2 separate regions of the Homo sapiens genome follow, and region 1 is linked to region 2. A link means that fine-mapping ties the variant in region 2 to the expression of a gene that starts in the linked region. Tissue or cell type: transverse colon. Region 2 holds a variant in brackets; the other region holds the start of a gene. All regions are shown on one strand. Distances are from middle to middle.

Region 1 (8,186 bases), 25 kb after region 2:
TCCTGTGCCTCAAAGACATTCAGTTAGAGTTTTGAACATAAAACTGGCATTCAGTCTTGGGGACTCAATGGAGTTGGGGGGAAGAAAGATGTCCCAGATGATTCTCTGGTTCCCGCCATAAACCAGGAACCAAGTGGAGTTATTTAATGTGGGGAGGGGGACAGTGAGGTGGGAGGAGGCGAATCTGGAGGGTGGGCACATGTGGGGAGATGGAAATCATAGGTGTATTTTCAGGTGATGGTAACTTTGAGGCCTTCAGGTTGCTGTGGTCTGAAAGCAAGTGAGACAGCCAAGATAAGGCCTGAGCTGGAGATGCCTGTTCGGAGTGTCCCCAGCATAGAGGCAGCAATGGAAGCCATGAACGTGATCGGATCACCCAGAGTCCACGTGAAGTGGGAGGAGGGATGGGGTCTAGGGCTGAGCACAGGGTGCCCACCAGGCTTCTTGCTCAAGTCCCCTACTCTGGACAGATCTCCATCTGCATCCACCACACCAACTTCTATTAACACTAGGCCAACAGCGGCAGAAATCCTGTCTGCCCTTCTTGCTCTCTTCTCTGAGCCAGGATTCTGGAGAAGCAAGAGAAACTCCAACATTTTCACCATAATTAGAAAGACATGTCCTGGCACTACTTCCTAGGAAATTCAGTCTTTAATTTTGGTCGATGAAGAGAAGCTCTGTTTACCCCATCTTTGTTTCCTGACCCAAATCCTTTTCTCACCATACTACAAGATGATTTCCCCAGACCTTTCAACAAGTAAAAAGACTACAGCTTTTTGGAGGACTAATTTCAACAGCATGGGTTTGTAATATTTATCCCATAAATATCAAATTTGCATTGTCTTTTAAATTTGGACTAAGTTTATCATTGATATGAGACCCTGAGCAACTTGAGGGAAACATATTTTATTAGTCATATATTTTTGAAGTCTTAAAATAGCGTCTGGTGGATAACAAGTGCTTGCCTTGCGGAATAATTTATTTGTGTTTCTAAAAAACGATATCCTTTCAAAAAAAGAATAAATATAAAGGGACCTGATAGCAGTTGTGCACTTATATCTGGAGAATGTTAATCTCCCAGGATTCGGGCTATACCTGGAAAGCATTAAATTGCACCTATATAGTCTAAAATACTTAGTGGAATGTTTTTTGTGCTGAAATGGCTGAAATATAAGGACACGTTATATTGATTCTGGTGAGATTCTCACACTGTCAGATACACAGTACAATACTGATCATATTCACATGTACCCACCTCCACATTTTCTGCATTATAAAGGGCCACCATGGGCACTGGCCCGACCCAGAGCTTCAGCAGCGGCATGTGGCGGTATTCCTCTGTGTACTCAATGATCTGCTGAAAAAATTCTGGGGAAAAACATCAAATTTGAAATTCAATCAAGATGAGAAAGTTGTGACCAGTATTGGACAAAGGTTTGTTTTCTCATTTTGATGAATATACTAATTCTGTAATATGTTACTGTTAGAGGAAGCCAGGTAGAGAGCATGTGTGAACTGCCTGTAATACTGCAACTTTTCTGTAAGTCTAAAGTTTTTTTCAACATAGTATTTGCCACAGCAAATAAACACACATAATGCATGTTAGCTATTAGAGAATAATAATTATTAGGTTTTGATGTCCCAGAACGGGCATTCTTTCTAACGACTGCCCAGTATCACAGAGCTAGTAAATGGTGGAAACTGGCTTGTACCGAGCGAGACTCCAGAACTTCACCATAAACTATGCTGCTTCCAAATGTCTCTCAGATGAAGCAGTTGTCAAAATTGCTATGAAGGGAGCTGGGTGAAATCACCAGTGTCAATCATCCTGCGTCATGCAAATATACTGCCTGCCCTGGTCTGGTCTGACAGAGGGGACAGGGAGGTCTCAATCTGTGGTTCTAAGGCAGCAGGTCCAACAGCTGGGAGTAGCTGGGGAAGGCAGACTTTGTCACAATGGACTGGAAAATGCTAGATTAGAGTTTAGAGGCCAGTTGGAAGCCAACTGCAATCTTCAAGGTGAAATGGCTGAGGCCAGCGTTTGGACATTAGCCGCAAAATGAAACGCAACACCTCTTGTATGTGAAAGACAAGATTCTTGGGAACAACGACTGTATCTTAGAATATTCTGATATCCCCAACTTTGTTGAGGTCAACACTGGGCACAAAGCAGGGCCTTACTAAATGCTTGATTGACAACTAAAGAACTTACTCTAACTGACTTCTAGACAGTGATCTAGAAACTTTGCATGCAATAAATTTAATCCTTAAAGTGACTCTGTAATATAGTCACTTTAACAAGTAAAGGAGAAAGAAAACCCTCTAAGTTAAAGAGTTTTAAATAATTTCTCAAACAACTTGGATATAGTGTTGGAAATTGAACAGTGGTTTTCCTGATGCCAAAATCCAGAATTTGTTGGTGGAATAAAAAGTCCCTTTGTAAAAGACAGTATTCGTCATTGTCTTCACTCTGAAAGTGACTACAAGGAGAATTACTTTAAATAGTCCAGTCAGCTCACAGGTTGTTTTGAAACAGGTCTTTATTCACTAGAGATTTTAATTACTGGAATCCCCAAAACAGTATGATGAGACTTCAGTATATTACTTTCCAGGGGTAGGGGATAGGGGAAAATCTATATTTTTGTACAGTTTATTTTTTAATACCATAAAGCCTTAGGACAAAAGGGGTGGTTAGCTCTGCTTTTAGAATTAACTGAGATGATTTTTACCAGTGTGATTTTCATATCTGTGTTGGATTACTTGTTACATCAGTCATGATGATATTTGGTTGGCAAAGAGTTCGCTTGATTTTTTTCTGTCAAAGTATTTTTAATATTTTGGTAAACACTCTTCCATGAGGCCTCATCTTGTGAAGTTGAAATTACAGCATTATTTTTATTAGAGAAAACAAGTGAAAATGAGAAAAAGTCCTTCAAGCTTTGGAGTTAGTTAATGCTCAGCCTGTAAAACGATTACTAACAAATAATCCCAGAGGAAACTGGGTTCTGGTCTGGGCCAATTTTAAAATATGCCATTTTGGGCAAATCTTCTCATTTCTGGGTACCTCAACGTAATCCCTGATGAAAATAAAACTCTGAGATCGAGTTCGCCCTCCCTGACAGGGAGTTGTAAATACCAGGTACTTTTGAGAGCTTTCTAACTTAACGTGATTTTTTTCCATCAATAAAATGTCCATCTCTGTTTTAAAACATGATTTTAATTAAAAAATTCACTCTTTAATAAACAAGGCGTTTGACACCCTCCAAAGAAGTCTGCCTGAAGGCCCTGCCGTCTCTTAATTGTTATTATGTAACATCCTTTAAAGGGCTAAAGTATGAAGGTCAAGCGGGAACTGAAGCAGCAGTCAAGTCTTGTGATGCCGGGAGGAAGCGTCCAGTGAATCTCTAGTCTCTTATTTTCCAAAGTGGCAGCGAGAGGAGGGCGGCTCTGGGCGTTAAGGTGTTGGCCAGTTTAAAACCGCTCTGTGCTCCCAGGGAGCTTCTGTTCCTAAGGCTTCCCAAGCCAAGGCAGGAGGAAACGGCAGGGCTTTGAGAGCTGAGCAGCGGTGAGGTGGGAAAAGACCGAGGGCAGGGGTTTGGAAATACCGCATCCTGTGCTACACACAAAGAAAATGCTCACTTTGGGATGGGGCACTAGCAGTGTCGGCGGGTGCCAAGGGGCAACGACTAGAACTGGGAGTGCATTCTCCACAGGGTGACAGGCTCCTCTCTCCTGCGGCCAGCGCCACAAGCAGCGGGTTCCTGGCTGATCGGAGGGTGGGAACGGGGCTGCGGACCCCGTTGCGCTCCAGGAGGAGCGCCGGCCCTTACCTCGCCCGTCCGGCTTCATCAGCAGCGCGTGGCCCACCAGTGGGTAGGCGCGGGCCACCGTGGGGATGGGCCGCATCTGCTGCCATTTCCGCGCGTAGCTCGCCACCCTCTGCAGCAGGCTCAGGACCAGACTGGCGCCGGCCAGGGAAAGGGCACTCGCCGCGCCCCACAGCAGCAGCTTCTGCCACACGAGCCCCAGCCAGAGCCCCGCCATCGCCCCGGCTGGCGGCCGCGGGGTGCACTCCGGGAAAGTGCGGGCCCGCGGGGGCGTGGTGCGAGGCGGTGCCGGCCGCACACCGCCCACTTCCCCGCGCGGACCTGGCGCGCTCCCCGCTGCGGGGTCGCCCGGTCCCCGGAACGACGTTTCCCGCCCGGGCGGCGGCCAGAGAGGGCGCCACGGGGCTGTTCCTGCGCCCGGCCCGGCCTACGCAGCACCGCGGCCTCCACGCCCCAGCCGAAAGCGAAAGACCGGAAAACGGTTTCCGGGCCCCAGGGCGTAGTGATTGCACTGGAGGCCCGGAGGCTGCGCCGGGAGGAGGCCGGCGACACTTCCGGCCGCCTCCGGATGCGGGGTCAGGGGCGTCGGAAAGGTCACCGCGGCAGCCCGGCGCGCCCCAGCGGGGCTGTTCTGAGGGTGCTGCGAGGTTGCTCTACGTGCGGGATTCCGCGGGCGGGCAGCCTGCTCTGGAGAGGAAAGGAAGGCGCATCCGGCTCGGAGCCCAGCTCTGCTGCGCATCGCTCGCTCCCTGCGCAACTTGCAGCCCCGGGAGGCGGGGCGCGTCCTGGCTCCCGCGGGGTCACATGGAGCAGCGGGCGCTGTAATCCAGGGAGGCTTTGGGGACACGTTAGGGAAGTCAGCTACCCGTGTGTGTCCGCTGGCCCACTGGGACACTGGGAGCTCAATGAGGTGGTTATGAGCCAGGTATTTTCCAAAATACGCACCAGGCACCAGACCGAGGAAGCCGGAGCCCCGGAGAGCACGCAGGGGCGGGTGGGAGAGGAAGGCGGGCGAGGCTGCTCAGCGGGTGCCGGGAGACCGCAGCCGCGGGGTACTCGCAGAAGAGCCAAGACCTGCCACCCAGCCCGGGAAGGGAGGGAAGGGCCGCGAGAGGGTGCCCCATTTCAGCCTGGGGAGACGCGTGTGCTGGCCGCCAGTCTCTCTTCCCGGCAGAGGGCCCCAGTGCTGACCCCAGCCCCTTTTCCACGCTCGATGCTTCTTACAAAGTGGCCGGGCGAGGAGTGTCGCTCCCCGAGAGGCCAGGCCCTTCCTAAACACTAAAGTGCCAGGAAGATGAAACTGAATGTCCTGGATGCCCGCTTTGCTTAATTACTAATTACGTTCGTTCACTCGAAGCCACTGCATAAGTTGGCCACAGCCACCTGCAGGGCCTCTTTAGTGCAGAGAAAAACATGCCTAAGGCTTTTCTCCATTTGAATTTGTTTTAAGTCATCTGCATGGGCTGACGTGAAATAGCAAGTGAACAAAACAAGTTGCAGAACGGAGTGTGTAAAGTAATGCCTTCTTTTGGAGAAAAGGTTTCTTTCTCTACGGCTCCACTAATGTCTGCAAGTAAAAATACTGATCAGCTCTATGGAGTGGGAATGAAGATGGGGAACTTACGCTTTTTATTTCATTCACGTCTACATTGTTTAATCACTTTAACACTTTAAAAAATAAATATGTTCACTTAGTATCTTTAAGCAAGTCTCATGGGCTTTAGTTTCCTCCTCTCTAAAGGGTTGAGGCTGAGCTATAATAAGGTTAATTACAGCTATAAAAGTAAACAATTTGTCTACATACTGGGGATTCTAAAATAGGGGGAGGAAGGAAGGGGAGTAATGGTTGAAAAACTGTGTATTGGGTACTGTGTTCCCTATTCAGGTGAGGGGATCAATAGAAACTCAAACCTCAGCGTCAGGCAAATTTAACAAACCTGCACATGTGCTCTTGAATCTAAAATTAGAAAGAAAAAGGGTTTGTCTGTATCAGTCTCTGCTAACCTCTGTGGATAAAACCAGGCGGGTAACATACAACCCCTCCCCTCCAGAAGGAGAGAAGGGAGATTGCTCTGGGCAGCAGTGAGTCTCGGCCTGGGCAGAAATGGTCAGAAATGCTGCAGAGCCAGGAGGGGTAAAATGAGCTCAGGGGGCAGTGAGGTGCCCCTGCCTGGAGCACAGGGTCCCACGCAGTGACAGGTGCAGGATGAGGTGGGTGGGTATGGAGCCAGCTTAAAGAGACCTGCACTGCCAGGCTTAGACGCTTTATCTTTATTTTGAAGGCAATCTGTGGGTAAAGAACAAAATAAAAGCCTTGTCCCTTTGTTCCCTTAGCCATCTTTCTTATGCTTTCTTTGTTACCAGATAGGGCCTTTCTCATACTACCCTGGAATACTGAAATTTCAGACTAAACCAGTCAGGTGGCTGGGAGTGCAAGAAATCCTTGGCAAGACCCTTCTCCCCGGAAAGCCTCCTGACAGCAGAGTACACAGTGTCACACCTTAGAATGTCCACCATGAAATGTAATGGTGCTCAGTGTAGCAGATGATTGCAAGGCCAGTGTGAAGGCAATCTACCCACAACATTTATAACTCTGCGGGTTGTCAGCTTCATGAGCTATGCAGCTGAGTAGGAAGGCATCTCCTGACTTTCACTCCTCAAGATCCATTCTCTATGATGCCCTTCCCACTTGAAAGAGCTTTCTTTAGCCAAGGTCTTTCTTTGATACTCTGTCCCCCTAAAAATCAGTGCTTTTGAAAGTCATGGCCAGAATAGTATAAACAACAGAAGGGTTTTATAAATGTTAATACTTTGATTTCGCAAATTTTCTGTCACTTGGAATGATTCTTAATACAAAACAATGTACATTATAAAAATAAATTCATAGCTCAGTATAGAACTACATTATCTGCAAACTCTACTTACACACATCAAATCATAAAGGGTAGCAGGAAGTTGTTATGAAATTTTGAATCACAAGTACAAGGATCAAATAAAGTATACAACACTCAAACGTCCAGTTTCATGAACAAACCATCACTTCCATGTAACCACAACCCAGATCATGCGATACAACGTGAAATCATACAGCATGCACTTTTTCGTATCTGGCTTCCTAAACTCAACCCTGAGTTTAGATGAATTTGAAAAACAAGTTAGATAACTTATACCAAGAAATATCAAGACTTATAACATTATTAATTAAAATCATGTAATTGGCACACAAATGGAAAACAGCAATAAAACAGATCATATGTATGTGTACAATCACCTGATTTATGACAATCTATATTGACTATATTGCCATGTGTAATATTTTCCCTTATTTTTCACAGCTGTTTATTATTCCATTGTTGGAATATATTATAATTTATTATTCATTTTACTGCCAATGGATGTTTCAGTTGTTTCCAGTTTTCCTATGTTGTGAAGAATTTTGTATGATCATTGTTGTAGATGTCTTTTGATACACATATGTACATATTTCTCCTTCCTGTAAATATGCCCAGGAATGGAATTGCTAGGTCATAAGGCATGCATACATTTAGACTTAGTACTTCTTGCCAGTTTTCCACATTTGTACCAATTTACACACTCATGAGCAATCTCTGATAGTTCCAGTGGCTCCATATACTTGCCAATGTTTGGTATTGTCTTTTTTTTTTTTTTTTTTTTGCAAAGCCATTCAGTTGGGTCTTGTACTAAAACTGCATTGAGTATTTATTTATTTATTTATTTATTTATTTATTTATTATGTGAGACAGGATCTCACTCTCTCACCCAGACTGTAGTGCAGTGGCATGATCTCAGCTCACTGCAGCCTCAACTTCCCAGGCTCAAGCAATCCTCCCGCTTCAGCCGTCTGAGTAGCTGGGACTACGGGGGCATGCCACCACACCAGGCTAATTTTTGTATTTTTAGTAGAGACAGGGTTTCGCCATGTTGCCTAGGCTGAGCGTTGAAAGTTTAGTATGAATTTTCCTAGTGACCTAGGATAGTCAGCATCATTTCAGAAGATTGTTGGCTATTTCAGAGAGCACCTATTAAATCATTTTCCGTGTTGAACGTTGTAGTTGTCTGGATTTTTAGTGATTTGTAGGAATTATAAATAATTAATGAGCAATTATTACATAATAAATTATATATGAATACAAATCCTTTGCCAGCTATGTATTGCCAAGTTTCTTCCTCTCTGTAGTTTGCCTTATCACCCTCTTAATGATGTTGTCATAGTTCACTTTGTGCTCCTATAACCAAATATCACAGACTGGTACGGTTCTGGAGGCTGGGAAGTCCGAGAAAGAGGAGTCACATTTGATGAGGGCCTTCTGCTGCATCATCCCATGGCAGAAGGTGAAA
Region 2 (8,179 bases):
GAAGAGAGGCACTTACAACTACATGCAGAATCTAAAAAAGTCAAAGTCATGCTAACAGAGAGTAGAATGGTGGTAGCCAGAGTATGGGGAGTGCCAGCTATGGGGTGGTTTTGGTCAAAAGGTCCAAAGTTCCAATTATGCAGTGTGAATAAGTTGGAGGATCTAATGTACAACATTGTTTCCCGTCATCCTGAAGCAGCTGTATTGATAGAACGGTGGAATGGCCTTTTGAAGTCACAATTACAATGCCAACTAGGGGACAATACTTTGCAGGGCTGGGGCAAAATTCTCCAGAAGGCTATGTATGCTCTGAATCAACATCCAATATATGGCACCGTTTCTCCCATAGCCAGGATTCACAGGTCTAGGAATCAAGGGGCAGAAGTGGAAGTGGCACCACTCACCATCACCCCTAGCTATCCACTAGCAAAATTTTTGCTTCCTGTTCCCAATACATTACCTTCTGCTTGCTTAGTTGTGTTAGTTTCAGAGGGAAAAATGCTGCCACCAGAAGACACAACAAGGATTCCATTAAACTGGAAGTTAAGCTTGCCACCTGGACACTTTGAGATCCTTTTACCTCTAAGTCAACAGGCTCAGAAGGGAGTTGCAGTGTTGGCTGTGGTGATTGACCTGGACTATCAAGATGAAGTTAGTCTATTACTCCACAGTGGAGGTAAGGAAGAGTATGCAAGGAATACAGGAGATCCCTTCAGGCAACTCTTAGTATTACCATGCCCTGTGATTAAGGTCAATGGGAAACTACAACAGCCCAATCCAGGCAGTGCTACATAAGGCCCAGACCCCTTAGGAATGAATGTTTGGGTCACTCCACCAGGTAAAAAACCACAACCTGCTGAGATGCTTGCTGAAGGCAAAAGGAATACAGAATGGGTAGTAGAAGAAGGTAGTCATCAATACCGGCTATGCCCACGTGACCAGCTGCAGAAATGAGGACTGTAATTGTCATATTTCCTCCTTATTTTGTTAGGAACATGTTTGTGTATGTATACACTTGTACTAAGAAAATATCTTCATTTTATTTCCTTTCTTTTTCCTTTATCATGTGACATAAGATTTATTTACTTCAAATCAGCATTTAAATGTTGTTAACTTTATGTAACAGCATTTGGGTTGGGGATTGGTACACTTCTGGTTGTACGAAGGATAGCTGTATTATGTATTACCTAACATAATTATGACCTTATTATTATCTTTATTTGAAGATTATATATGATTTCAGGAGATGCGTATGGGTTCAAGTAGACAAGGGGTGGACTTGTGATGGTTAATATTGAGTGTCGGCTTGACTGGATTGAAGGATGCCAAGTATTGTTCCTGGATGTGTCTGTGAGGGTGTTGCCAAAGGAGATTAATATTTGAGTCAGTTGACTGGGAGAGGCAGACCCACCCTCAATCTGGGTGGGCACCATCTCAGCTGCCAGCCGGGCTAGGATAAAAGCAGGCAGAGGAACGTGGAAGGACTAGACTGGCTAAGTCTTCTGGCCCTCATCTTTCTCCTGTGCTGGATGTTTCCTGCCCTTGAACATTGTACTCCAAGTTCTTCAGCTTTTGGACTCTTGGAGTTACACCAGTGGTTTGCCAAGGGCTCTTGGACCTTTGACCACAGACTGAAGGCTGCACTGTTGACTTTCTTGCTTTTGAGGTTTTGGGACTTAGACTGGCTTCCTTGCTCCTCAGCCTGCAGGCAGACTATTGTGGGACTTCACCTTGTGATCGTGTGAGTCAATACTCTTTAATAAACTCCCCTTTATATGTACATCTATCCTATTAGTTCTGTCCTTCTAGAGAACCCTGACTAATGCAAACATGGTGACTATAGTTCATAATACTGTATCGTATACATGAACTTCACTAGAGAATAGATCTGATGGGTTCTCAGCACACACACATGCGCACACACACACACACACACACACTATGTAAAATAATGGACATGTTAATTAGCTTGACTATGGTAATCATTTCACAATGTACATGTATATCAAAACACTATCTTGTACACAGTAGATATATATAATTTTTATTTGTAAATGATACATAAAAAAAGGTAGAAAAATGCTGCACTCAAAAGGACCCTAATTTCATTTTAGGGTCACACAGTTTATGCACAGGTTTCCATTTTAAAAAATGCTTATAACATTCCCAGTATTTAGTGGCATGTAGTTGAAACCTCATCTAACAGAACTTTTTTTTATTAGAGTTGCTTGCAGGCACAGTGAATAATGGATGGGTATGGATAGCTCCTCCTAGAGGGATATTTTAGCAAATGATATCTATGCCTTCCTACACCCTACCAAAGAATCATATAACACTGAAATCTTAGATTTGGAAGGGACTGGCTTGATGTTTAGGTCCTATTCCCACCCAATTCAGGAAATGCAATATATCAGGCTTGACAAACCACAGTTCACAGACCACATTTGGCTTTGCACCTGTTTTTGTAAATAAAGTTTTATTGAAACACAGCCATGGCCATTCATTCACTTGCTGTCTATGCCTGCTTTCACCTTACAATGGCAGAGTTAAGAAGTTGCTACAGAGGCAGCATGGCCTCAAAAGCCAAGAAGATTTACTATCTGACTCTACAGATAAGGTTGGCTGAAATCTGCTGGATAACACTTCTGACATAGACTTTAGACCTTCCTGTCAAAATACTTCGACTGAGGAGAAACTGGTTTCCTAAGCAGCCTGCTCCAACTCAGGGAGCTCTATTTTAATTTTATTTTATTTCAGAGCTCAGGGAGCTCTATTTTAATTTTATTTTTAAGAAAAGAAAAAAACTTCCTGTATACTGAAATACACCTCCTTGCAAACTTCTATCCTTCAGTCCTAGATTTACGTACTAGACCCACACAAAACAACTGATTCTCCTTTTTCTGCTTTTAAAATATTTAAAGACCACAATGACCTGCCCACTAAATCTCCTTTGTTTTCTATTCTTTGAAATTACAGTATATCATCTTGATTAGTACATTAGAGTTTTTGGAGTCGATTCTTAAATAAATATTTTATGTATATTACTGGAATGCAGAACTACATTTATTAGAAATGTAGGATAATGTTGCCAATAAAATATTTTCTGGTGAGAAGGAAGTAGCATATTTTAAATATGCATGTTGTGCTGTCTTTTAGGATATCAAGTGGTGCAGCAGTAGTCAACAAATCTCTCCACTTTGTGCAGTAGAAAAGAGTTTATATTTTAGATTTCATCAGCTACCAGGCTCAGCAGAAAACAAGAACAACAACAACAACAACAAAACAACTGGGACAAAAGCACCCTGCCTTCACATCACAGCAGAAACCCTCAGGGTTTGTTTTTCTAAAAGGTGAGATTACAGACTTTTAACCTATTTAAATATGCTTCTAGGTTTAGTTGGAGTTTTCTTACAGTGAAACATGTTACATTCTAGTAGCACAATAAAACTAAAAAAACCTCTGTAGATTCAGGTGAACCAAATCAGAACTAAATTGAAAAGAGGCGTGGTAAGTAGAATTCTAAAACATTCTCCCAAATCTCCCACTCAAATCCTGGGGACAGTGAATAAAACGAGATATCACATCTGCCCATGATTATGTTACATGAGAAAAGCAATTCTGCAGATGGGGT[T/C]AAGATTACTAAACACTTGGCTTTGTGCCAATCAAAATGGAGTCAATCAGAGTGGGCCAAATCTTATTACATGAGCCCATTAAAAGCAGAGTTTTCCTCTGCGGTCAGCATAAGGAGATGTCAGAGAGATTCAGAGCGTTAAGAGGGATTGACAGCAGGGAAGTGCTCCAGCGCTGGCTTTGAGATGGGTCACGGGGAAGGACCTGAGAGTCATCTCTGGACAAGAGCCAAAAAGAACATGGGGATTTCACCCCTACCATCCCAAAGCACTGAATATTCCAACAAACTGCACGTGCTTGAAAGAGGATTTTTCTCCAGAACCTCCCCTTAGACACGTGCCAGGATGGAGCCCTCTCCACCTCCCCTTGTCCCAGATCCCCACGTGACTCACTTCAATCAGACCACTGCTCAAACATCATCTCCTCAGGATACCATCCTCCAGCAAGCATCTCATCTGAAAAGGCACCTTCCATCTCTTCCACCTCCTGTCTCTTCACCATTCTTTGTCTTTCTGCGTAACGCTTCTCACTCCCTGCCATTCTGTTACCTCCTTGTCCATTTCTCTGTTGTTTTTCAGACGCCCACTGTCTGTAACACCTTGCTGGTAGGACTGGGGCTTGCTTGCTGTCTTTCCCCAGCTCCCTCAATAGAACTTGGCAGACTTTTATGAATGAAAGAGTAAAACGATAAATAAATAAGCACATGAATAAGGAATGAAATATCTTTTAAAAACAAGAGATTGAGGACAGGAAGGTTGCTTTCCCCGCAGTTGTGGACCATCTCATCCTCACATGAAAGTCACAATCGCACATGTAAGCTATTACCTGCCAGTCTTAGATGACACTGAAAATGATTGTTGGATGAATTCTGATTGGTCCTTGTTCTGCTGAATGCCCTTTGCTGGGAGCAAATGTCGTCTTGAGGTTCCGTCCAATTGCATCATATGAGACACTGCAGTCCTTGCCTTTCCAGAACAGCATTGCTTTTGGTAATAATAAACCAACACTGGCTACAACATCAAGCATTATTGATGGGAGTCAAAATTAAGGCATAGACAGCTGAAAAAACTGAAGCACAATCCCACTCCTAGGAAGATGTGGCAATATGAAAAAATTAGTTGTGCCTGAGTGATTTAAATGTCTTAATTTAGCCTGGGAAACATGGCCAAACCCCAACTGTACAAGAAAAATTACAAAAATTAGCCAGGCACGGTGGCATGCACCTGTAGTCCTAGCTACTCAGCAGACTGAGGTGGGATGATCCCTTGAGCGCAGTAGGTGAAGGTTGCAGTGAGCCACAATTGCGCCACTGCACTCCGGCCTAGGTGACCCTGTCTCAAAAAATAGATAGATAGATAAATAAATAAATAAATAAATAAATGTCTTAATTTACTGTATTTCCATAAGCATAAAACTTAAAACTTGGGCTTGACTTGCGCAAGCAAGGACGCAAAGCCTAGAGGTAGAATATAGAAAAAAAAAAAGGAAAGCAAGCAAGCAAGGAGAGAGAGAGAGAAAGCAAGAGAGAAAGCAAGGAAAGAAAGAAGAAAGCAAGGAAAGAAGGAAGGAAGGAAGGAAGGAAAGAAAGAAGGAAAGAAAGAGAAAGAAAGAGAAAGAAAGAGAAAGAAAGGCTACTCTCCTTCCCAGGAGTGCCCAATAGATACTCCTGTGCCTACATATTTTTTTTTTTTTTTACTATTCAGCTAAAACATGTATTTTAAAACTATATATGGAATCTGAAAGTAAACTGAAAACATTTTTAAAATAAGACAGTCATGTCTAAATATTGTGATAATTTTTCTTCCCGATAAGATCTATAATGTCTGTATGACCCTTACTGAAGGAACAAAGTTATCCCAACATTTTTATATAGGAATCTGAGTTTCATTTAAGTACAGCCGTTATTTCTGTGAAACATAAATTGAGTAGTATCAGGAAAGGCAGAGATCAATAAATGCAAACCACAACAGAAAGAAAGTGACGGGTAAAGAGGAGAGATAATGATGGGAAGGAGAAAGAACGTGCCAAAAACTTATCTACTAGGATAAAGAGAACAAGATCAACAGCTAAATGCTGGAGTTAATTCCAAAACTGAATTCAGCCCAAGGAAATAACCATTTGGTGAACTTCTGGACAAGAAACTGAGGCAAGGATGCAACGAGTCCATTTTAGTAATTAGAGATGAGAGATTTATCCCTGAAATGTGGCATACAGCTAGCCAGCAGGAAAATGAACCTGGTTTAATTAGAGGAGAAAAATGACTAATTAGTCCAGAAAGTCATCATGGCAGAACCAAAAAACTAGACTGATGTGTTAGGTTAAGCCTAGCTGTCTTCTAAAACAATGCAGTGTAACTTTAACTTTCCTACTATCTAGAAAAGAGAAAACTCTGCATTTTCTTAAATGGTATTGCATTTAAAGGACTGGTGGGCATATATGCTGATGATCCAATACAGAGAATTATTGAACAGCACAAAGAAAATAGGGTGAAGACCTAAGATCATATCCAGAGAATGGGGGCCCTTCCTTCATCCTTCGGCTGACCTGACACACACTAACTCGCTTTTGGTCATAAATGAAAGACAGTCCTTTTAAGCAAACGGCAATATACTGGCTCTTGGGTTCCCAAGTAGGGTGGACCCACTGAAGAGTGAGCAGGGCAGACATGCAGTGAGCCTCAGCATCACCTGCCATGTGGGACTCAGGTTCCTCCAGGATTCTGTCCATTTCTTCTGCCTGCTTCTTCTCATCACCCAGCAGCTGCTCCAGAGGTTCTATTGCTGATTGATCTTGAGTTTCACAACCTGGAGTTTCCACCACAGAGATGGACTGTATCTCTTCTTCAATTGCAGCTGGGAAAACTCGTTGGGGAGAACTCGAATTTAACCTTGCTTGGGTCACTCAACAAAGGTTGAGAAAGTGGGATTGCCTAAGAATATGGCACATATTTACAGTGTGTGTATGCTGGGGAAGGAAAAAGATGAGAACAGAAGAAAAGCCGGTAATTCATTGTAGGATAATTTCAAAAATAAAAAGTGCTGCTCCTAGAAAAAGAGGGTGCCCACGCAGACTAAAAATTTTTAAATGTATCACTCAGGCATTAGATGCTGGAAGGAAAAAGGTTTTGATCTTCTAGAAACATTCCAGATAAAAATGGATTTTTACGACCAGCATCTCTTATTGGGTCATTTGGTCCAGAAACTGATATCCCCAGCTGTCTGTGACAATGCATAGAGCCCCAAATCAACAGTCCATCACCTGGAGAGGTTTCTGGACTCTAAATCCCTGGGACCAGTGATGCCTGTGGTTTTTGCTGATTCCCAGTAACTGAGTTTACTTTGTGCTTTCAGCTGAGCAAAATGTTCTGGTGATTCTACTTCTTCTAGTTGATTCTTCAGAGTCAGAGAAATTCACAATCTCTCTATGACAACAGTAAAGGAACCTTTTGTTAGAAAATCCAAGAGTCACTGACGACATCAGCTCGAAAGTGCTATTTATTTTATTACCCATTATGAATCAGCCATCTCCTGATTTATCTTTTACAGTTTTCTATGTTTTGAATTGATATCAATTCTTAGAATAAAATGCAGTACCTGCATCTAAAATAGAATTTATTTTTCTTGAGACACGTCTTTCAGGCAGAGGAAAGGTAATGGGCACACAAACCTTGATCATCTTCTTATAAAACAAGGCAGCATCCACATTTCAATACTGTAGCATATGAAATAATTTCTCAATTCCTACTCTGTCATAGCTTAAATGACTTACTGATTAAAATATGAGTAACAATAATTCTGGAGCTGAAAGACATTCTCAAGCCAAAAGGTAACATTAAACAATGTTTTACTTTAAATTTAATGTCATGTAGGGTCACTAAAAACAAAATGTAAGGGATAAATGTAAGTGCATAAAACAGAGATAATACCAATTTCCACAAATACAACTTTTATTATCCAAAATCATCTTGGAAGGACTTTTTCTAATATGCCCATTTTCTAAATAAGATTAACCATTTGATGGGAATATTTCCAATTGTATCACCTCCTTCCTTGACTTTTTCTTCATCAACTTAGGGCCTGGGTTGTAGGCACTGTGGCTCTTTGGGATAGTTAAATGGGTGCAATTTGGCTGAGACCGCCCCTGTCTTAAATGGCCCAGGCTACAGGGCTTGCCAAATGGCTTTGGTTTGCAACCTCTTCCTTTGATATCCATTGAAGAACACATGTCCTACCCTCTTGATTGCAAGCTTCTATCTGCTATTGGCTATCAGGAGCATAACAGATAAGTTCTAAGGTCCTTCCAGTTCCAAAAGCCATTGACCAACCCTGTGAGGCACTATGAGAGATTGGAGATTACTGAGGAATCTCTTCCAATAACATATGATATATAAAGGTAATTGTGATTCTATGAAGAGTGAATAAAAATTGAAAACAAAACCAATCTTGTTTAAACTATTAAATGAAGTTTTAAAAAATAATGGAGTGGGTAGATGTATTGCCTATCAAATTAAAATTCAGTGAACACGTGTCAGTTATCACCTTCATAAGTA

Evidence for each region. PIP is the estimated chance that this variant, and not a neighbour inherited with it, causes the effect.
Region 1: it holds the start of CYP4V2, and the variant in region 2 is fine-mapped to the expression of CYP4V2 in transverse colon (CEDAR, PIP 0.95). The same link has a PIP of 0.9 or more in pancreatic islets.

What each region holds. Positions count from the first base shown.
Region 1 is chr4:186,187,682-186,195,867 of GRCh38, reverse strand. It overlaps CYP4V2 (cytochrome P450 family 4 subfamily V member 2), which reads right to left and starts at 4,301. Exons shown (of 11, transcript NM_207352.4): 1 at 3,831-4,301; 2 at 1,256-1,368. The coding sequence starts at 4,044. FLJ38576 (a long non-coding RNA gene) reads left to right here and starts at 4,378. Exons shown (of 1, transcript NR_046264.1): 1 at 4,378-6,836. RefSeq lists a silencer at 3,975-4,504.
Region 2 is chr4:186,212,391-186,220,569 of GRCh38, reverse strand. It overlaps CYP4V2 (cytochrome P450 family 4 subfamily V member 2), which reads right to left. Exons shown (of 11, transcript NM_207352.4): 11 at 7,107-8,179. It also overlaps a transcript of KLKB1 not described here. Among named protein-coding and RNA genes, the nearest start is that of KLKB1, 11 kb to the left of the region's middle. The variant T/C (reference allele first, on the strand shown) is at 3,632.